Regions from separate parts of the Homo sapiens genome. Here region 2 is linked to region 1. Evidence: fine-mapped expression QTL. A gene starts in region 1. The other region holds a variant in brackets. All regions are shown on one strand. Distances are from middle to middle.

Region 1 (2,777 bases):
TAGCAAAGAACCTGGCACATTGGTCACCATGCATAGAAATGGAAACTGAGAAAGGGGCAGGGAACTGATCCCCTCCTCACAATCTAATAGAGCAGCAAGGCAGCTCAGCAACTCTCACATCCGCTTGCCACTGAGTATGTGAGAACCTCGTCTTCGGCTTCCTTGCGCAATGACAGGGTGGCACGAATTCCAACTCTACTGATTTGATTCATCATGAAAAGTTGCATGACACCAGATACATTCTCCACTACCCCCAGCATCAAGATTCCAACTCTGGCTGGGGCATGCATTAAGTCTTAGCAACCATCCCCAACTCACCCCTCCCTCAATTCACCTGTGGTCTCTCTGCCATTGGCCTCATTCTTCTCTGCCACCTGTGGTTCTGTGACAACATCTCCATTTTCTTCATGTCCTTTTCTGGGCCGCTGTCGAGCTTTGGCAGCCTCCTTCTTTTTGGCTGCCTTCTTCTTGGCCAGGTCGGAGGGCATGATGATGACCCACAGGGGTAGGTTACTGTTGTTTCAGGGAGCCTGAAGGAAGGCAAACAGATACCCCCAAACCCTAAACTTACTAGTAAGAATGCCTGGGCCCTGCTCCATCCCTCTCAGGAATCTTCGTATCAACATCAAGCCTCTGATGCCCTGGCCTGCCCCCGCCTCGTCTGTTCCAACTTGGTCAGGGTATCCCAAACCAATGCCGATTCTCAGCGGCTCTTCTAATCTTAACATCTCTTCCCACAGGCACCAGTCCCCCACGGACTGCCTCACTTTGGAAACGCTCCTTCTTTCAGGGCCTCCGGCTGGGGACCAGGTTCTGCCCCTCAGCGGAGGTCTCCGTCTCCGGTTTCCCTACAACTTGGCGCTCCGCACTCAGCTAGCCGCCTCACTTTCCGGGCTTCCTCCTCCCGTCCGTCTCGGGCCTCTTCTCGATCGTCCCTCTCCACATCACCCGGCCGTCGAGCCCAGCCTCTTGCCGGGACGCACTCGTCCTCGCCCGCGTGAGTCCCCTCCGAGTCTCCACGCTCGTCACCCCCGGGTCCTCCCCCACCCCGCCCGTCAGCTTCTCTCCCTTAGCCCTATCTTCCCCCTCGCAGAGCCCTCCATCCAAACCCCGTCCCTGCTTCCTCTTCTAATTCTCTTTCCCCCTCACCGGCGGGGACCCTCTCCCTACAGCTCCCCTTCCCCTAACTCACTGGGCCTCGCTGCTCGGCCTATGTCGCAACAGAGCTGCTCCTTAGGATCCTCCGCGTGCGGCCGGCTCACCAGCCAATCACGGCCTCGGGTGGTTCTCGGCGCGCCGCGCTGCCTCCTTGGAAGTGTAGTCCTCAAGTTGCAGCGGCCAAGAGTGAGACCCGCCTTGAGGACTACTATGTATCCCACAGACCTCGCGGGGCCGCGTGACGCCATCAGGATGCGCGAGGCTCGGGGAGGGGGCGGGATTAGAGTCCAAGAGCTCTCTGCTAGCGGGCGCACTTCGGGCGCTGGAAACTGCAAATCCCAGATTGCTCGTTGGATAAACCGGCTGAGCCTTCAGGCTTTACCCCACCTCTCGAAAATCCATTGAGCTGTTGTGGAGTTACGAGTTTTTAGAGCTACCTAACCGACTCAGGCAGCAGGGCGTGCAACTACACTTCCCAGCTTGCCTCAGCGGGAGTAGATCGAAACAATGGGAGAGGAGAGGTGGGAGCGTGAGGGGAGGACTAAAATGAAGGGGGCGCTGGGCAGGGAGGGGTTCCAGAAAGCGGGGCATCGCTGCAAAGATGTTGCCAACGGAATTCCTTCACGAAAGAAAGCGCCTTGGTTTCATTAAACCTTAATTTTAGAGGCTGGTTCATTGTTAAACTTTTAGAAGGTGCCAGACGTTGTTTTGGAACCTCGGCCGCTTAGCCTCCCCGCTGCCGCATTGTTAGGTTTCCACTGAAGCCATGCAAGTTTGGTGGAAAGGGCCCCGAGATAAAAAGGCCCCTTGGCTGAGATTTGTTTTATTATTAGTTAGCCATGCTACCGGGCCCGTTACTTTCCCTTTGAGTCTCACTGTTTAAAATCTCTCACATGACATTTTGGGCTGGATGGTTTAAAAATAAATACAATCTCTCAAGGACTTCACATTACCTACATTGTAAACTCCAAATGTTTAGCCTCAAGTACAAGGCAGGCCCTTTGTGATCTTTGTTACTTCTCCAGGCTCCTGTGCAGCAGAAGCCTCACCATCAGTGACGTTTGGGGCAGCAAAGGAAGCTATTGCTCCCTTTGAGCATATTCTCCAAATGTGGCACCTTTTCGCCCACAGTCCGTGACTCAAACAATGAGAATTAGTTTTTCTTCTCAAACTCATACTTCAGTAGAACTTACCTACTTAAATAGTTCGGAGATTAAGCGTGCTATTTTACACCTGCATGCCTTTGAACATACATTTTCCTAGAATATCCTCCACCAACGAAGTGCCTACTATCTGTCAGGCTCAGATATATGTGCTGGAGTTGCAATGGTGCAAAGTCACTCCCTGACCTCAGGGAGCTCATAATAAAGAAGGAACATGTGAAAAGTAAACAAGCCGGGTGTGGTGGCTCACACCTGTAATCCAAGCACTTTGGAAGGCCGTAGTGGGAGGATCATTTCAGCCCAGGAGTTCAAGGCTGCAGTGAGCTATAATCAAACCACTGCACTCCAGACTGGGTGACAAAACTAGACCCTGTCTCTAAAAAAACAAAAAACAAAAAAAACAGACCTTGACACCATGAAATTAAGTGCCCTAAACGAAGTGACTTTCGTGTGTTG
Region 2 (2,777 bases), 29 kb after region 1:
GGGATTCCTGCCAATCACTGCATTCTGGGGTCTGGGTGTCACCGGAGTGAAGAGAAGTGAATAGTTAACAAAAAGTCCATCTGCATTTCTAAACAAATTTTTGGGAATATTAAATCAAATGGCAGCGGGCAGTGGGATGTGTAAATAAAACCCCCGTGGAAGTGCTGCGCGGACTCGTCGCCCGGCTGTCCTTGCAGGTCTGACACTGCACCTTCCACTCTGCACCACGGGGCCAGGGGAGCCCTCGACCTGCCCTCGGCCTTGAGGGCACCAGGTTCAATCTCATGCTGCCCTTTATCCCCAATTGCATCAGTCACCACAGAAAGCCCCAGACCCCCTCAACTCCTGCACTTTGAGCCCCACAAGGCCCTAGACCCTCCTACAGTTGCCATCTCTCCCCAGCCCCTGAAACCCTCCTACTGTGTTGTCTGTCCTAAGGAACATTTCCAACATGCTCCACCTCTTCTGGAAGCATCCTCTTTGCCTTCCAGAAGCAGATGCCAGGCTCCCTTCCAGCAGTGGCTCGACCACTGGCCTAAGGGTGGGTATGGCCCCCCATTGCCCCTCACTGCTGTTTCCAGAGCCCTGGCTCTGCATCTTACCCCCAGCTAGGGAGGCTTCCTTTGTGCGGATTCTGGCTCCTGGCTCATGTCACTCTCCGGAGCACCACTCCTGTCCAGCCTGCTGCATGCTCTTCCAGACATCTCTGGCCTCTCCATTCCTTGGCAGCTCCTCTTCCAGCGATCCTCCCTGTTCCCTCAGCCATGCACTCCCAAGGTCATCTCTTAGATCACTGCAGCAACCGCAGCCCCCCACTTTCAGTCCCATGCACCCTACTCGCTGACCACCGTCTCCTCTTTTTCCTCTTTCCAGTTCACCCTGTCCAGCTCCCTGACCTCCAAATCCTGCGACTCCTCTGGAACCTCTGCTTCATTTCACCACTCTGCACCCCTCCCCACAGCTACCCCTTGCTCTTACACATTGAATCTCCTGGTTGTTTTGACGGTGACACATAACACAATTGACCATTTTAACCTCCCTTGCATGTACTTTTTTTTTTTTTTGAGAC[A/G]GAGTCTTGCTCTGTCACTCAGGCTGGAGTGCAGTGGCGCGATCTCGGCTCACTGCAACCTCCGCCTCCCAGGTTCAAGCAATTCTCCTGCCTCAGCCTCCCAAGTAGCTGGGACTACAGGTGCCTGCCACCATACCCAGCTAATTTTTTGTATTTTAGTAGAGACGGGGTTTCACCGTGTTGCCCAGGCTGGTCTCAAACTTCCTGACCTCAGACAATCTGCCTGCCTCGGCCTCCTGAAGTGCTGGGATTACAGGCATGAGCCACTGCGCCTGGCTTTTTTTTTTTTTATTTTTGAAACAGAGTGTCGCCCTGTTGCCCAGGTGGCGCGATCTCAGCTCACTGCAACCTCTGCCTCCTGGGCTCAAGCAATTCTTGTGCCTCGGCCTCCTGAATAGCTGGGACCACAGGTGCACACCACCATGCCTAGCTACTTTTTGTATTTTTAGTAGAGACAGGGTTTCACCATGTTGGCCAGGCTGGTCTCGAACTCCTGACCTCAAGTGATCTACCCACCTTGGCCTCCTGAAGTGCTGGGATTACAGGCATAAGCCACTGCACCTGACCCCTTGTGTACACTCTTGACTCTCTTAAGAGGTAAATCCAGCTTCACCAGCTCCTCCCCTGCAACCACGCACCTGAATGTGGCCAGAGAAAGACACACAGCCACCCCACCCGGTCTCATTGTGGATTCGGCACGAGCTCAGCTGGCATCGTGCTGCCCGGCAGGCCACTCTTCTCACAGCACAGTCACAAATATGCCCGCTCCCACACCCCGACAGGAGTTTTTTGCAGCTTCTCCCTCCTCTGACTTCCAACCTCTCCTCCATCCTCCTCACTCCCAGCTTGTGCCCGTTTTCCCCTTCACTGAGAAAAAAGAAGCTTCCGAAGAACTTCCAGAGCCTCCCACCACACCCTCTGCCTGCCAGCAGCTGATCCCGTTCCTCCAGATGAGCTATCTGTGTTCCCGACTACAGCCAGCCGTGCCTCCGTGTGCCAGCTCCGTCCCTCCTCCACACCAAGGACACTGCTCCAGCAATTCTCTCCCACACCATCATTTCATCAACATTCCCCTCTTCCCTGGAGTTCCCCCAGCAGCATGCACAAGTACTGTTACATCCCCATTGGAATAAGCGCTCTTCTTTCATTTTTTATTACTTTTTAAAAAATAGAGGCAAAATCTCACTATGTTGCTTGGGCTGGTCTCAAACTCCCGGGCTCAAGTGATCCTCCCGCCTCAGCCTCCCAAACTGCTGGCATTTTAGGCGTGAGCCCCTGCACCCGGCCTCCTGAAACAATCTCTCTTAACCCTACTTATCCTACAGGTTGCTGCCCAGTAGCAACAAAACTTCTGAAAAGAGTTGTCTCATTTGTGCTCCTCCATTCTCCCTGAATCCCAATCCTGTCAGATGCAGCTCCCGCTGCTCCACTGAAATGCTCCTGGCAGGGCCACCGGTAGCCTCCACATTGGCAAATGCTGCCGTCAGTTCTTAATCTACTGCAAACTCCGCCTCCTGGGTTCAAGCGATTCTCCTGCCTCAGCCTCCTGAGTAGCTGGGACTACAGGCACCCGCCACCACACCCAGCTAATTTTTGTATTTTTAGTAGAGATGGGGTTTCACCATATTGGCCAGGCTGGTCTCGAACTCCTGACCTTGTGATCCGCCTGCCTTGGCCTCCCAAAGTGCTGGGATTACAGGTGTGAGCC

Which allele goes with the higher level. Positions count from the first base shown, and alleles are read on the strand shown. Sizes are in standard deviations (SD) of each study's normalised expression.
With allele A in place of G in region 2, the expression in spinal cord of the gene that starts at base 1,235 in region 1 is higher (small effect, 0.28 SD a copy in GTEx).

What was found. PIP is the estimated chance that this variant, and not a neighbour inherited with it, causes the effect.
Region 2: its variant is the best candidate, but not a certain one, in a credible set for the expression of ABCF2 in spinal cord (GTEx, PIP 0.67).

The regions. Positions count from the first base shown.
Region 1 is chr7:151,225,971-151,228,747 of GRCh38, forward strand. It overlaps ABCF2 (ATP binding cassette subfamily F member 2), which reads right to left and starts at 1,235. Exons shown (of 15, transcript NM_007189.3): 1 at 1,193-1,235; 2 at 335-530. The coding sequence starts at 488. It overlaps ABCF2-H2BK1 (ABCF2-H2BK1 readthrough), which reads right to left and starts at 1,235. Exons shown (of 17, transcript NR_160983.1): 1 at 1,193-1,235; 2 at 335-530. RefSeq lists a silencer at 1,012-1,071 and enhancers at 1,172-1,221, 1,332-1,411.
Region 2 is chr7:151,254,835-151,257,611 of GRCh38, forward strand. It overlaps a transcript of SMARCD3 not described here. Among named protein-coding and RNA genes, the nearest start is that of SMARCD3, 7.5 kb to the left of the region's middle. RefSeq lists enhancers at 1,300-1,800, 1,801-2,301. The variant A/G (reference allele first, on the strand shown) is at 1,070.